Homo sapiens: one gene and its partner. The protein of the gene in region 2 binds, or shares a complex with, the protein of the main gene of each other region. Links are inferred from orthologs where the notes say so. Each region holds a gene or a part of one and is shown on either strand. Other genes may lie near its edges.

Region 1 (7,780 bases), about 140 Mb from region 2:
CAATACCAGCTCACTGCAGCCTCCACCTCCCAGGCTCAAGCCATCCTCCCACTTCGGCCTCCTGAATAGCTGGAACTACAGGTGCACATCATCATGCCTGGCTAATTTTTAAATTTTTTGTAGAGATGGGGTCTCACTCTATTGCTCAGGCTGGTCTTGAACTCCTGGGCTCAAGTGATTTGCCCACCTTGGCCTCCCAAAATGCTGGGATTACAGGAGTGAGCCACCACACCCGGCCTGCTCAGCTTTTAAATTCAACACTCTGCCTACTCTTTTCAAAACTAAAAGTACCATTACCTTAGCTGTAGAACCTAACTCTCTCGAAATGTACCAGAGAAAATCTAATTAATACTCTCATTTTCTGAATGTTCCCCCCTAAAAACAACAAAAACCCCACTAGGAGTGGAATTTGAGGCCTCCCCAACCACCTACCAAAAAAGGAGGGTGAAATGAAAGGAAGAAGAAAAACTCAGCATTCTTTCCTCTGACAAAGAGTAAAACGACAAGGAATATCGGCCTGAATTCTCTTCCCAAGAAGAAAGAAAGCACACCAACGCAGGCATTTGTCTTCTGTCCATGGTGCTGAAGTTTATTCACTTTCAAACCACTTTCAGTAACAGGTGAGGTTCTACCTTAAAATTTAATGCATGGGGTGGGAGAGGCGAGGAAGTCACCATCAAACCACTTTATCTACAGTTAGCATAAGATGTGAGAAGTGTTGACAGGAAGCTGCAGCTTAGATGGGATGATCACAACTCCATGGCAACAAGATGACACAAATGCAGCAGAGACCCCAGGGGACAGGAGCCTCTTGCAGTCTGTCCCTAGGCCCAGCCCTGCTTGTCCTCCCTGGCTGTTATCTTCAGTACTGCAAAGAGAACACAGACATATCTGGCTTGGTGACCTGGCTGTCCTGGAAAAGTCAGCTTCATGTATGAGTGTGCCCATCCTCTGAACTTGATTACTGACCACCTGCTTCCCACCGGCCCCCACCCCAGCCTGATGACCCTCTGAGCTTCATGAATTGATAAGCAAGTTACTCATCAGAGTAAATTTCACTTAAGCCCTTCAGGATCTTGCAATTCTGGGGAGGAATATGAACTGCTAATCAGCCATGCAAAGATAACTTGGCTCTATGAATATTTTAATTTCCCAGTGCTAGTGGCAGTTGCTTTTTTTTTTTTTTTTTTTGAGACGGAGTCTTGCTCTGTCGCCCAGGCTGGAGTGCAGTGGTGCCATCTCTGCTCACTGCAAGCTCCGCCTCCCGGGTTCACGCCATTCTCCTGCCTCAGCCTCCGGAGTAGCTAGGACTTACAGGCGCCTGCCACCACGCCTGGCTAATTTTTTGTATTTTTAGTAGAGACGGGGTTTCACCGTGTTAGCCAGGATGGTCTCCATCTCCTGACCTCGTGATCCACCCGCCTTGGCCTCCCAAAGCGCTGGGATTACAGGCGTGAGCCACCGTGCCTGGCCTTTTTTTTTTTTTTTTGAGACAGTCTCGCTCTATCACCTAGGCTGGACTGCAGTGGCGTGATCTCTGCTCACTGCAACCTCTGCCTCCTGGGTTCAAGTGATTCTCCTGCCTCAGCCTCCCAAGTAGCTGAGAGTACAGGTGCCCGCCACCACACCCAGCTAATTTTTGTATTTTTAGTAGAGCTGGGGTTTCACCATGTTGGCCAGGATAGTCTTGATCTCTTGACCTCATGATCCGCCTGCCTCGGCCTCCCAAAGTGCTGGGATTACAGGCGTGAGCCACTGTGCCCAGCCCCCCCCCCTTTTTTTTTTAAGCATTTTCTCAGCAGACTAGCTAAGGACAATAGATGGCATGTCCTGACACCCATGGGGCACTCTGGGTGTTGGGGCAGAAACTTGAGAGGGAATGAGCTTCTGCATTGGTCCCTTTCCTGCTGAAGGTGTCTCCCAGTAGTGTCCATCCCATCCCATTTCCATCCCCAGTTCCTCTTACCCGGAAGCTGTTACAGCCCAGTCCGCTCTGGGCTCCAATCCTGTCCATCCTGCCCCCGAAGCAGCTGGATCTCCGCAGGCTCCGAGGGGCAGTGAGCAGCGCCCTCAGCTTGCTTTTTAGGAGGGCAGATCGATCAGAGGAGTCCCAGGGGCCCCGCCCGAGGGCACCTCCATCTCTCTGGGCTGGGCTGACTTCCCCGGTCCAGGGAGGCACCTCAGGGAGGGGGCTGAGAGCAGCCCCCGCTTCTTCATTCGGCTCACTGAGCACTTGTGGGGGCACGACCTCATCTTCTAAAGGCATCTTTTCTTCCAAATGGTCCAGCAAATTCTTTAGAAAAGGAAAATACAGGGAAAGGGATAAACCTCACTGACTTGGAGGAAATCAAGAGGAGTGAGCACAGCATCAGAAAGCCCCCTGGCCCCAGACTGCACCCGCTTTCCTGGCCCTACCTTGAAATCCATCAGGTCTGCGTTGGACACGGCATTGTACATGGGATTAGCTCTGGTCTGACCTAGGAGCTGGAATGCCAGTAAAAGGAGGAAGCTCACGGTGGTGGTGGAGAAGGAGCTCATGCTGGCGTCGTCAAGGAGCAATCCACTGCTTGCTGCTCTGTCTCTCCCCTCTGGTTCCTCTCTGGTTCCCCTCTCTTGGCCTACGTCTGTCCCTGTCTCCCAGCTGCCCAGTGCCGCCTCTTTTTATAGCCCCCCAGCTCTCCAAGCACGCAGGAGAGACAGAACCCTCCCCATTCTGTCACTTGCAGTGATAAAGCTGCCAAGTGAGAAGCCAGCAGGAGATGCCCTTTTAAAGTTATCATCCCGCAGGGCTTGTCACAGCCCCTCTCTGCCTTGGGCAGCCCCAACAGCCCCCCAGACCCTCAGCTGCAAGAGCCGCATTCTTACTGATTTGACTCAAGAGGCTCCCACTTCAAAGGTGTGAGAAGAGTAAAAAAGAGTCCTTGGTTATCTCACCGCCGTGCCTCAGGATTCTTTCTCCTCGACGCTGGTACCCGTGCGGGGAAACAGAGGGTGACGCTTGGCTGGTGCCCAGCTCCCCTGGTTTGTTTGTGGCTCAGCTGTCAGGGCCTCCAAATAAGGGTGGAGAGGAGGAAATGGCAGGCAGCCAGCAGCCCGAGACAAATGGATCCAGATGCTCAAGCTGGCCTCACACCTGCCTCATCCGCCACGTGGGCAGACCTCTGGCCTCAGACAGGGCTGCCTTCACCCCTGGCAGTCCCTCTCCATGGTCAGGCGAAAGGAAGTTATTTTTTAGTATATAAAGTCAGCTGAGAACCAAATGTGATGAAGCTCCCAGGAATCCAACCCCCAAATAGAAATAGCAAGAAAAGGCGGGGGAGCACAAGCATCCTCTCTCCAAAGCTCCTCCTCTTCCATGTCCCCCGCGACCCTCCTCCAGCATGCTGCGGGGACAGGCTTAGAGGACGCAGCCAATTTCATTTCTTCCGTTGCTGTTTATAGATGCTCAGACTCTTCGTGTCTGAAGTTTGTTAACATCCCCCTGCCCTTCCTGGGCTTGTGCCCGTGGCAACTTGACCGATGGAGGAAGGGAGGTGGGGGTGAAGGAGGTATAGTCAGTTTCCCTCAATGCCTTCTACATCCTTCCCTGAGGACGTGGCAAGTGGCAAGTGACCGAGCCACCAAGGTCACAATTTCCCTGGCCCCCAAAAGGGAAATAACAGGCAGCAAGTCTGTCTATGTTTAATGAATGGCCTGTTTGCTAAGCACTGAACTCAGTGTTAGCCATTACCATTCAATGCAACGTATACTGGGGGAAAACTCTAAATTTGAAGGGCTGAGAGACCAGTACTGTAGCCCAAAACAAACCAGTTGCATACCTCTTCGCAGCCTTACTTTCCTTGTGTGTAAAATGAGAAAGAATGTTAAAAACCGGCCGGGTGCAGTGGCTCACACGTATAATCCCAGCACTTTGGGAGGCTAAGGTGGGTGGATCACCTGAGGCCAGGAGTTTGAGACCAGCCCTACCAACATGGCAAAACTCTGTCTCTACTAAAAATATAAAAATTAGCTGGGTGTGGTGGCATGTGCCTGTAATCCCCGCTACTAGGGAGGCTGAGGTAAAAGAATTGCTTGACCTTGGGAGGCGGAGGTTGTAGTGAACCAAGATCGCACCACTGCACTCTAGCCTGGGCAACAGAGTGGGACTCGGTCTCAAAAAATAAATAAATAAATGAATGAATAAAGTAGAAATCTTCCCTGCCTACCTTGCAGGATTGTTGTGGAGCCCAAGTGAGCTGAGAACGTGTCAACACATAACAAGTGTGCAGTGCTGAGTCCCTGCAAGATGGCCATCATAGTTGTCTTTATTGGTTGCTTGTAGCATGCCTAGCACTGTGCTGAGAACTTTATGGAAATGATTTTATTTTGATCACCATCCCCAGGTGGTAGATAGCATTGTCCTTGCTTACAAGGGAACAGAACTGAGCCCGAGAGGCTATGCCACTTGCCCAAGGCCACTAGGTGCCTAAGTGGCGGAACCAGGACTGGATCCCCAGGTCTGACGCTGATGTCTGTATCCTAGCCTATTTCACGTAGAGAGCTGCCACCTTACCTCTTAGCTGCATTCCCCAATTAAACCCCCATTCCCCATCTTTCAGATGCCCCAAGGGAGCTCCTTCACCTTCCCCATGCCCCTGGGGCTGTAGCTTTTTTGTGCACTTACCAAGTCTGTGTGTGTTGGCTGCTCTCCTGATCTATTTCTACACCGAATGTGTTTTAATCCACTCCTTAGAAGCTCAGAAAATGTGTGTTGAGTGACCAGCTCTGTCCTGGCTGGCCAGATCTGTCCCCAGGTGTGCTGACCTCATGACTGACCAGGTGAACAGGACGTTGTGCAGCCATAAGGTTGGAAATCAGGGCAGCAAGTGACTAGAGGTCACAAGAGGTATCCAGGGTGATATTATTCTAAGATAAGATAAAAGGGACCCTCTTTGGCAAGCCTTGGGGTTTGTCTGTAGGTGGGGATCTAATATTTCATGGGGTGGTTAGAAGCAGCCTGTAGGAGTGAGAGAGAAGAAAAGTAACAGGCACAGAAAGCCAGGCCCACCTCCATCCCCACCTCTTCCACGGCTGAAAAATCAAAAGCCTTTTATTTCCTTATCACTGGAAAGAAGTCATCTTAGTCATACAACGGGTGGAGCACTGCAAACGGGTGGGAGAATCCAGAATCCGGGTGTTGCCAGATTCCAGCCCAGAGTTTGGCTTCACGATTCTCTGGGGGTATGCCTTGGGCTGCTGCAGGGAGCCCCAGAGTGTGCAGTGTCACCCGCGTGCAGAGCTGGCACGAAATCCCCAACACATTCGTGGCATGATTCTGCGGGACCCAGATGGTCTAAAGCAGAAGCCCCAGTTGGGAAAAATTGGTTCATACTTAGGGATGATCGTTGCTGACTTTGAAAATGATGTTTTGTTTCTTTGGTTTAATATGGAGGTCACTAAGGGCTGAAGACTGGGGACAGTTTCCCTAGAAAACAAAGCCCAAGGCAAAAGGTCACTCGCTAAAGTTTTGTGGGGGTTCCTATTCAAAGGAAGCAAGAGTGAGGCGGAGTGAGAGGCTGTTTTAGTTAACTACTGCCGGGTAACAAGTCACCCCAGACTGGGCGTGGTGACTCACGCCTGTCATTCCAACACTTTGGGAGGATCATTTGAACCCAGGAGTTCAAGACCACCCTGGGCAACATGGCAAAAACCCATTTGTACTAAAAATACAAAAAATTAGCTGGGTGCAGTGGTGCGTGCCTGTCATCCCAGCTACCCTGGACACTGAGGTGGGAGAATCACCACAGCCCAAGAAGTTGAGGCTGCCGTGAGCCATGACCAAGCCACTGCACTCCAGCCTGGGTGACAGAGTGAGAACCTGTCTCAAAAAGAACAAAAGCCAGGCATGGTGGCTCACGCCTGTAATACTAGCCCTTTGGGAGGCTGAGGCAGGAAGATCTCTTGAGCTCAGGAGTTCCAGACAAGACTGAGCAACATAAGGAACCCTGTTTTTAATAAATAAACAAACAAAAAACAAAACAAAAACCAAGTCACCCCAAACCTTAGCAACTTCACACAATGCACATCTATTATCTCATCACCTCTGTGCTCTGTGGATCAGGGATCTGGCCCTGCTTGGCCTGGGGCCCCTGGGCAATGAAGGCGTTGGCTGCGGCTGCAGTCATCTCAAGGCTTGGCTGGGGGAGGATAGGCTTTCAGGCTCACTCCTGCAGCTGTTGGCAGAAGCCACAGGTTCTCGCTGGCTGGTGGCTGGTGGAAACATCAGTTTCTTGCCACGTGGGTCTCTCCATGGAGACGCAACTGTCTTCTATTAGGTCAGGCGAGAAAGAGAAGTTACGGAAGAAGCCACAGTCTCTTTGTTACCTAATCTCAGAAGTGACATCCCATTCTTCATGTTGTACTGTTCTGTGTCCCTTAGAAGTGAGTCTCTGGGTCTCACTCACACTCTAAGGGAGGGGGTTACAGAGGGTATGAAGACCAGGAGGTTGGGGATCTCTGGGGGCCTTCTGAAAGCACTGCCCACACAAATAGAGAAGGAAGGAAAGCAAATGTAAGGTGACATTGGCTGAGTGCAGTGGCTCATGCCTGTAATCCCAGCACTTTGGGAGGCTGAGGTGGGTGGATCACTTGAGGTCAGGAGCTCGAGACCAGCCTGACCAACATGGTGAAACCCCGTCTCTACTAAAAATACAAAAATTAGCCAGGCATGGTGGTGTGCACCTGTAGTCCCAGCTACTCGGGAGGCTGAGGCAGGAGAATCATGAAGGGCAGGGCTCTGCAGGAAGGTTGACTTATTTGGGAGTGTCTTAGTTTAAGTTCTCTTGAACCGGAGACAGATATTCCAGTATTAGTGGCTGATCTTGGAGACAAACCCAGGAAATGTCAGTGGAGAGTGGGGAAGTGATACAGAAAAAGTAGAAGTCAGTGACCACCTCTGGCAGTAGGTGCTTAATCCTCCTCCCACAGAGAACTCCAAACAGGTTCTCTGTTTGGAGAACAGAGACACATGCCACCTATGACTCAAGGGAGCTGGGTGTTTGTTTTATTTTATTTTATTTTATTTTATTTTTGAAACAGAGTCTTGCTCTGTCACCCAGGCTGGAGTGAAGTGGTAATTTCAGCCTTGACTTCCCGGCTCAGTGATCCTCCCATTTCAGCCTCCCGAGTAGCTGGACTACAGATGTTCACCACCATACCCGGCTAATTTTTTTTCTTTTATTTTTAGTAGAGACGAGGTCTCTCTTTGTTGCCCAGGCCGGTCTCGAACATCTGAACTCAATTTATCCTCCCACCTCAGCCTCCCAAAGTGCTGGGATTACAAGTGTAAGCTGCTGCACCAGGCGTGAGCTGGGTCTTTAAATGCCAACTCCTGGCCAGGTGCAGTGGCTCACACCTGTAATCCCAGCACTTTGGGAGGCTAAGGTAGGAGGATTGCTTGAGGCCGTGAGTTCAAAATCAGCCTTGCAAACATAGTGAGACTCTCCATCTCTACAGAAAAAAAAAATTATTTTAATTAGCCAGACATGGCAGCATACTCCTGTAATCCCAGCTACTTGGGAGGCTGACGTGGGAGGATCGCTTGAGCCCAAGAGTTTGAGGTTATAGTGAGCTATGATCATGCCACTGCACTCCAGCCTTGGTGACAGAGCAAGACTCTGTCTCTATTTAAAAAAAAAAAAAAAAAAAAAGCCAGCTCCTGTCAGATGTTGGTTGAGCACTGCTCAGGTCAATGTCAATTCCCCAGCACTTCCTGCCGGCCCCAAGGAGCTGAGTGGGCTGC
Region 2 (7,264 bases):
AAGGTCAAGTATGAAGCTTCAGACATATGGACATTTTGTTCATCTTTGTTGAACCCAGTGAGTTAGAAGGAGGTAAAGGAGGTGGAGAATGACAAGGGTCAATTGCGGACAAAGTGATGTCCACAGAAGGGTGTGTCTGGAGGAACTGGGCCTGGTGGGCACGCTGGGGAAGGGAAATCAAGGGGTGGGGCAGGAGCTCCCGTGGAGGGCCAAGAGCCTACAGGGCAGGAGGCGGGAGGCCCATCTATCCTACACACTGCTGAGAAGTCTAGAGGCCAGCAAGGCGAGTGGGCAGGAAGGGTGTGGGGTGTCGATGGTGGAGGGAAGGGGCATGAATGGCAGGGGACTGTGGGGACAGCTGAGTCATGCTGTACTTGCGAAGAGGGTCATGAGGCTGTGCTGAGCTGGAGCTGACTATGTACAGGGAGGAGGTGAGTGGTCTCCCTCTGCCACTGCTGGGATAAGCCAGAGCCAGAAGCATTAGGTAAATGGTGGCTGTGGAGGAAGGGCCTGGGGGATCCATGACAAACACCAGGGACCTGTTAAATTTGCGCAACGTCAGGCGGATCTGCTGGAATGGTGGCCTCTCCTGTGGGTCCTCAGCCCAGCACCGCTGCATGAGCAGCCCCAACTCCTCCAGGTGACTCTGCAGGGCCAGGGAGGGCCGGAAGGGGGGCTGCTCACCCCGAGTCACCCGCTCGATGATCTCTGTATTGGGGGGGTAGAGGAGCTGAGGGGTGGGGCTGGCCAAGGGCCTAGTGAGAGACTGGGGCAACCAGCTGAGATGGCAGGGGAAGTCCAAGACCAAGGCATGGGGGCGGGGGACTGGTCACTGGCAGCAATGGGTCAAAGGGTGGTGACTGAACCCCATTACAGAAGGAAGGTGTGGTGGTGCTGCCAGGGGACCCTCTCCCTGGGGCTGGGGTTCGTTGAGACTGTGGCTGGGTTTAAGGAAGGTGTGCTCCTCTCACCTTTGGGGCTCAGGTCCAAACCTTCCACGTGGAAGACCCCACTCCTCAGGGCAATCTCCTGAAGGATGATCCCAAAGCTGTATACGTCACCAGCCTGGGAGCCCCGCACAGGGGGTGAAGCCATTCGCAGGAGCTCAGGGGCCGTCCACAGCTTTTCTGTGGGTCAGAGGTCGGTAGTCACCGAGTGAGGGAGCCCAAAGCTAAGGGGTGAGGGGGAAACAAGGGTGTGGCCGAAACTGATCTGGATGCATCACAGAGTGTTAGAGCTAGAGGAGGCCTTAGAAACCACTTCGTCTGGCCTTCCCTTTTTCATGGGTGAATGAATTGAGGCTGGAGTCAGGACAAGCATGCCCAAGCCCATCAGAGGCCTTGCATCAGTCTCCCTACTGGGTGGTGCTGGGGGCAGGTGTTAGGTTCAAGAGTCAAGGCTCACTGGCATAAACGGTGTGTCCTTGCTCTGGGTCCAGGTCCCTGAAGCTCTCCAGCCCATAGTCGGTGATCTTGAGCACAAAGCGCCCATCTACCACGCAGTTGGATGACTTGAGGTTCCCATGGGAACAGATAGCCCCATTGTGTAGAAACAGCATGCCCTGGAAATGTGAGTGGGCAGAGGTATTGGCCAGGAGTGGGACCTACACCCGTGGCCAGGAGAAGCATGCCTGGCCCCTGCTCTACACATCCAATAGGTGCTTAGGGGCATACCTTGACGATGTCATTGGTGAGTGAGTACCGGAACATCCAGTCCAGGGTGATGCTCTCATTCTCCAGAATGTCCTGCTGGGGCAATAAGAGTCAGACCAATCCCCTGCAGATCCCCCTGGGAGTTGGAGGAGGGTGCAGGGTCCTACTGATGTGAACTGGTAGAACAGGACAAAACTTTGGATTGACTCTAGTGCCACTGCCCTTCCCCAACTCCCATTTTTACAGATGGGGCCAGAAAGGTCAGAAAGAGGGCGAGGCATGCCTGGGGTCTTATGGCCAGTCAGGGGCAGAGCCAGGGCTAGAACCCAGGTTTCTTGACACCCCTTGTCCCCCTCACCTGCAGGCTCCCACGGGGACAGTACTCTGTGAGGATGCAGATATTGGGGGGGTCGGTGCAGGCTCCCACAAACCTGGTCAGGTGTTCATTCTGCACATCCCGCATCTGCAAGTGGGACCAGCATCAGGAGCTTGACAGAGACCTCGCTCCTCACCAAGCTGCTCACTAGCTTCAGGGACCCTCACTCTTCTTAACTCCTTATTCACTTTCTGCAACCATCACTAAGATCTTCCCTGGTGATTCCCACCCATGTCCTTTAGCCCACCCTCCCCAGAATCTGCTCCTACTCCCTCTGCATCCTAAGCCCTCTCTCCCCCAGGGACATCACATATGGCCCCTCAAGATTCCTCCAGGTTATCTCCAGTGGTCTCTTCTCCTAGCTTAGGATACCCCCACTCCCACCCACAAGATGAAGGTCCATCCCAGGGCTCCAGTCCCTGCCCCTTTCTTGGGGTACCCTGAGGTCCCTCCATAACTAGTTCTGTTGGCCAGTCTCCCTTGCGTCCCCGAGGGCCCCTTCTCCATGCCACTGCCTCACTCCCCACATTACATGCTTCAGTTCAAACAGGACTTTTCGTGTCAGCTCAATGCGTTTACGGTTCACACGTTTCACAGCCACGAGGTTGCCCTGGGCATGGAATGGAGACTGTCACTGTGAAGAGCATGGTCCCATGTCCTGGGAATTCCAGCTGCTCCCGACAGCCCATCCCTGCCCTCAGGACCCTCACTTGTTCCCAATAGCCCACCCCCAGGGCCCCCATCTGCTGCTCCCCACCAGCTTACTCCTTCCCTCAGAACCCCCCACCAGTCCTCCATCAGAGTACACTCCTGCCCCAGTCCCAAGGCCCAGTGATCTTTCCCCAGGCCCACCTTATAATATGCTGTCTTGGCAAAGACTTGGAACTGGCCCTCTGTGGTTAGCAGGGAGCCGTAATTGGAGCCTCTCTGAAAGGAGGGAGAGCAGGAGGAATGGTCAGCCGGTGGGCCCAGTCTGCATCCTGATTGCTTGTGCTCTGGTCTTTATTTCCCTGCCTTATCCTGCCTTATCTTTGTGTCACCCTTCCTTTTTGTTGTTGGGTTTTTTTTTGAGATGTAGTATCATTGTGTCATCCAGGCTGGAGTGCAGTGGTGCTATCCTAGGTCACTGCCGCCTCAGACTCCTGGGCTCAGATGATCCTTTCACCTCAGCCTCCAGAGTAGCTGGGACTACAGGTATGCGCCACCATGCCCTGCTAATCTTTGTATTCTTTGTAGAGACGATGTCTTGCTCTGTTGCCCAGGCTGGTCTTGAACTCCCAGGCACAAGCAATCCTCCTGCCTCGGTCTCCCAAAGTGCTGGGATTGCAGATGTGAGCCACTGTGCCTGGCCCACCCTGCTTTATGTTCCACATCATAAAATTTCCTCCTCATTTACTTTTTTTTTTTTTAAAGTGTTTTCACAGGTACTATCTCCTCTGACCTTTAAAAGAGCCCTGTGAGGGAGGCTCTGCTGCTGTAATCATCATCTGAGACAGTCTCGGAGAGGGACTATGAGTCGCTCAAGGTCACACAGCAAGTGAAAGCAGAGCTGGGACTAGAATCCTGCTCCCTTACCTATCCCTCAGGCACTGCCCCTTGTACCCACCTCTCCTTTATTGCCCCCCAACACAAACACCAGCGTTCTTACCCCGCTCAGGGTCAGCCGGCTGCCTGCACTCCGCAGGTGCCTCTCAAGGCTACTGGGCTCAACGTCCTCCCAGCGCACCCGCCACAGCTCCGAGGCCAGTTCCTTCTCCAGCTGCATCTTCCTGGGATACGAAGGCTGCATCTGAGCCTGTGGCTGAGCCGCTGACCCAGGGCAGGGTGCTCAGCAGCCCCTCCTCAGAGCCGTGGGACCACACCATGCACTCAGAGATGGAGGGGGAATTCTATCCTCTGGACTGAGAATCAGGATGGCTGGGGGAAATTCTGCCTTACTGGGGACCTTGGGGGAATCACCTCAATGTCCTTACTTGGGAATGAGGCCGCAATATCTATTTCATTCTTAACTATTATAAGAATGAAAAGAAATAGTGAACATGAGGCCAGGCACAGTGGCTCATGCCTGTAATCCCAGCACTTTGGGAGGCCAAGGTGGGTGGATCATGAGGTCAAGAGATCGAGACCATCCTGGCCAACATGGTGAAACCCTGTCTCTACTAAAAATACAAAAATTAGCTGAGCGTGGTGGCATGTGCCTGTAGTCCCAGCTACATGGGAGGCTGAGGCAGGAGAATTGCTTGAAACTGGGAGGCGGAGGTTGCAGTGAGCCTAGATCATGCCACTGCACTCCAGTCTGGCAACAGAGCGAGACTCCGTCTCAAAAAAAAAAAAAAAAAAAAAAAAGAAAGAAAGAAATAGTGTACGTGGAAGTGCCTGGCACACATTATATGCTCAACCAGCAGTGATTTTTCTCCCCTCCCTCCTTGCTTTTGTATATCATTAACTCCTCCTGTACTTCATTTTAGCCTCCACTGGACGGCAGGAACAAGGCTCATTCAGCTCCCTTCTCCATTCTAGGTTGGGCACCTGGCACACACCAGGGCTCACCCTCCTCAGCTAACATGGGCATGATTGCAAAGGTTCAGAAAGTTGCTTCCTATCTGGCCTGCAAGAGTAGCAAGGAAAACCAGTCCACGCCCCTATGATGTCACCCATCAACTTCTCTGCTTCTTGGATCTTTCTGACTCTCCTTGGCCATTCCTATCCTTGTCTCCTCCCCTCGCCCTGCCATTCCCTTCTCTTTCTTTCTCCTCTGGCTTTTAAGCCTCCTTTCTTCCTCATCTCCCTTGGTTTTCCCCTGGTGCCCCTTCACCCCTGCCCTCTTCCCTCTGGGTCCCCACCGCCTCCTCTGCTATTGGTTCTCCGGGTCCCCCAGCCTCACTCAACCCCCCACATCACAGCTCACCTGTATATGAAGAAGGAGACAATCAGAATGCCGAGCAAGGAGAGGCTGCCCACCAAAGCCAGCACCTCCAGGGTGGAAAGGTGATCTGCAGGAGAGAGTCCATATTGCAGCAAGAGAGATTTGGGTTAGACAGCAGGAGGAAGAACTTTCTAATAGTCCATCAGTGAACTGGGATGATGGATGAAGGGAAGAAAAAGGCAGGAGTCATTCTCCAGAAAGCCCTCAGCATGGGACAGGAGCACCTACTCGACTGTGCTTAGGGGAAGGATGCAGCATCTCTGGGATGGAGGCCTGGAAGGCAAGGGGCAGTCACCTTGGTTGCATGCTGGGTCTTCGTTGTCAAAGCCACATTTGGGGATGTCAGGAGGAGGGTACCCCAGGGGCCAGTTCAGTTTGCGCCCCGACACAGCCACCAGCTCTTGGGAAGTCCCATTGTAGTTCAGTACAACCTAAGGGAGAGCAGGAGTGGTGGCTAGGCCAGGGCCTGCGGGGAAGGCATGCTGTGAGTGCAGCAGTCTCACCTCCCACCTACCCCAGCTCTGCTTCTAGAGCCTACATATATATCTGGGTTGTCACCTGCTTACCAAGTCCCCACTGCAACTGGACACAGGACCTCATACCACACACATAGTACTCAAGTGGAAACACCTGAAAACTATCAAGGGGTTTATAAAGAAAACTCCATTTAGAACCCGATCTCTACACTCAGGGAGTTTATAATCTTGGTTGAAGTACCAACCAAGCATTGATTTTTCTCTACTTATTTTCTTGGTAGAAAACAGGAGAAGGTAATGTTCACCTTAGCCTACATTCGCAGGCCCAGTCCATGTGCCCGTCTTCCAGGAGGCCTTCTCTGGATGACCTGTCCCTTGTGGCCATTGGCCTCAGCGCCTTCCTGTCCCTGCTCGCTTGCAGAGCTGTGTAATGTGCATCTTTCACAGCCCTGTCTCTGCTGGGAGGCGGTCCTGCCTGCCTCCCTTCGGAGCTCCCCGAGGGCAGGCTTGTGCTCCCTCCTCAGGCATGGGGCTCCCCAAGTGTGATGCCTGTGAGTCCCTATCATTCTGGTGGCTTCCCCAGACTGGAGCTGGGTCTGTTTTATCCAGGGCTCTTGTAAGTGTCCAGGCATGGTGGAATGGCTACAGGATAAACAGGTGCCCTGGCAGGGCTGTGGGGGGGAAGTAGGAGGGTGAGATGTCATTTGGAATTGGCACTGTCTTCTGGGTGCACAAACTTACCCTGAAGGCACCATTCTCGGGATCCATATCCCAGAGGGAGAAGTCTGTTTCCCGATCGCCACTGCTATCAATTTTCAGGTATCCTGTCACACCTGAGGACATGGGGGAAGATGACTATGTTTGAGAGAATAGAAGTTCAGGGGTGCCCCACTTCATCTCTTCATCCTCTAATCTTTTTTGCCTTGCCTTCCAAACATACATGTATACAGAATGATAGTAAATGGTAAAACGGCCGGGCACTGTGGCTCATGCTTGTAATCCCAGCACTTTGGGAGGCTGAGGCGGGCAGATCACCTGACGTCAGGAGTTCAAGACCAGCCTGACCAACGTGGTGAAACCCTGTCTCTACTAAAAAAAATACAAAAAATTAGCCAAGTGTTGGTGGAGGGCACCTGTAATCCCAGCTACTCAGGAGGCTGAGGCAGGAGAATTGCTTGAACCTGGGAGGCGGAGGTTGAAGTGAGCCGAGATTGCACCACCACACTCCAGTCTTGGGGACAGAGCGAGACTCCATCTCAAAAAAAAAAGAAAAAAGAAAAAGAAAGGTAAAAGAACTCAGTGCCCAGCAGGGATGATTGAGATTGGACACTTTGTAGGACTTCTGAGGGATGGGCCTGAAAAAAGCTGTGGAGGAAAAGGCTGGTGTGCATAGGTAACTGCTGCAGGACAATAGGCTTCTCATGGCTTGACACTGGGCACCTGGGATTCATCCCCCAAGGCAGCCCATTCCAGCCACCTCCAGGCCCTGACCTTGAAAGCTTCGGTTCCACATCCGCTGAGTGATGTTCTCCCCATCAGTAACAGTTCCCCCATGTGCCAGAGTCTCCGTCACTGCCTGGATATAGAGCAGGAGCCCGTCGTGGAAGGATGCTGGGATGGTGTTCACCTGTAGGGGCAAACAGAGGTCGGCTGGGGTGGGCATATGAAGGGCATGGAGGTGGGAGCTGTGGGGAAGGGAACAAGAGGCACTGGGATTTTGGAAGAGGATGGGAGAAAATAACACCCCTATATCACAGGGAGATTTTACTATTTAAACGATGCCTTTGGATTAGCATCACTTCCTGAATCCTACTAGGTAGACAGGGCAGGATGT

Evidence for each region.
Region 1: the proteins of NPR1 (region 2) and NPPA are in contact, whole or in part, in a crystal structure (PDB 7BRG), measured with the Rattus norvegicus proteins. The link is inferred for Homo sapiens from one-to-one orthologs. Residues at the interface, in NP_036745.1 of Rattus norvegicus: Asp90, Val115, Tyr116, Ala119, Pro120, Arg123, Ala139, Leu140, Gly141, Ile142, Val144, Tyr148, Tyr182, Asp184, Leu186, Gly187, Asp188, Asp189, Arg190, Phe193, Phe194, Val196, Glu197, Tyr200, Met201, Arg204, His213, Gln214, Glu215, Phe216; in NP_036744.1 of Rattus norvegicus: Arg126, Ser127, Ser128, Cys129, Phe130, Gly131, Gly132, Arg133, Ile134, Asp135, Arg136, Ile137, Gly138, Ala139, Gln140, Ser141, Gly142, Leu143, Gly144, Cys145, Asn146, Ser147, Phe148, Arg149, Tyr150.

What each region holds. Positions count from the first base shown.
Region 1 is NC_000001.11:11,845,147-11,852,926, forward strand, and holds NPPA (natriuretic peptides A preproprotein), read right to left. Parts: upstream 2,638-7,780; 5' UTR 2,539-2,637; coding exon 2,416-2,538; exon of another isoform or gene 2,294-2,415; coding exon 1,967-2,293; intron 869-1,966; coding exon 863-868; 3' UTR 563-862; downstream 1-562.
Region 2 is NC_000001.11:153,681,497-153,688,760, reverse strand, and holds part of NPR1 (atrial natriuretic peptide receptor 1 precursor), read right to left. Parts: intron 7,058-7,264; coding exon 6,922-7,057; intron 6,264-6,921; coding exon 6,172-6,263; intron 5,386-6,171; coding exon 5,250-5,385; intron 5,022-5,249; coding exon 4,937-5,021; intron 3,798-4,936; coding exon 3,677-3,797; intron 2,956-3,676; coding exon 2,881-2,955; intron 2,639-2,880; coding exon 2,561-2,638; intron 2,116-2,560; coding exon 2,011-2,115; intron 1,746-2,010; coding exon 1,674-1,745; intron 1,562-1,673; coding exon 1,405-1,561; intron 1,172-1,404; coding exon of another isoform or gene 1,149-1,171; exon of another isoform or gene 1,128-1,148; coding exon 972-1,127; intron 709-971; coding exon 540-708; intron 1-539. UniProt on the Homo sapiens protein: Receptor for the atrial natriuretic peptide NPPA/ANP and the brain natriuretic peptide NPPB/BNP which are potent vasoactive hormones playing a key role in cardiovascular homeostasis.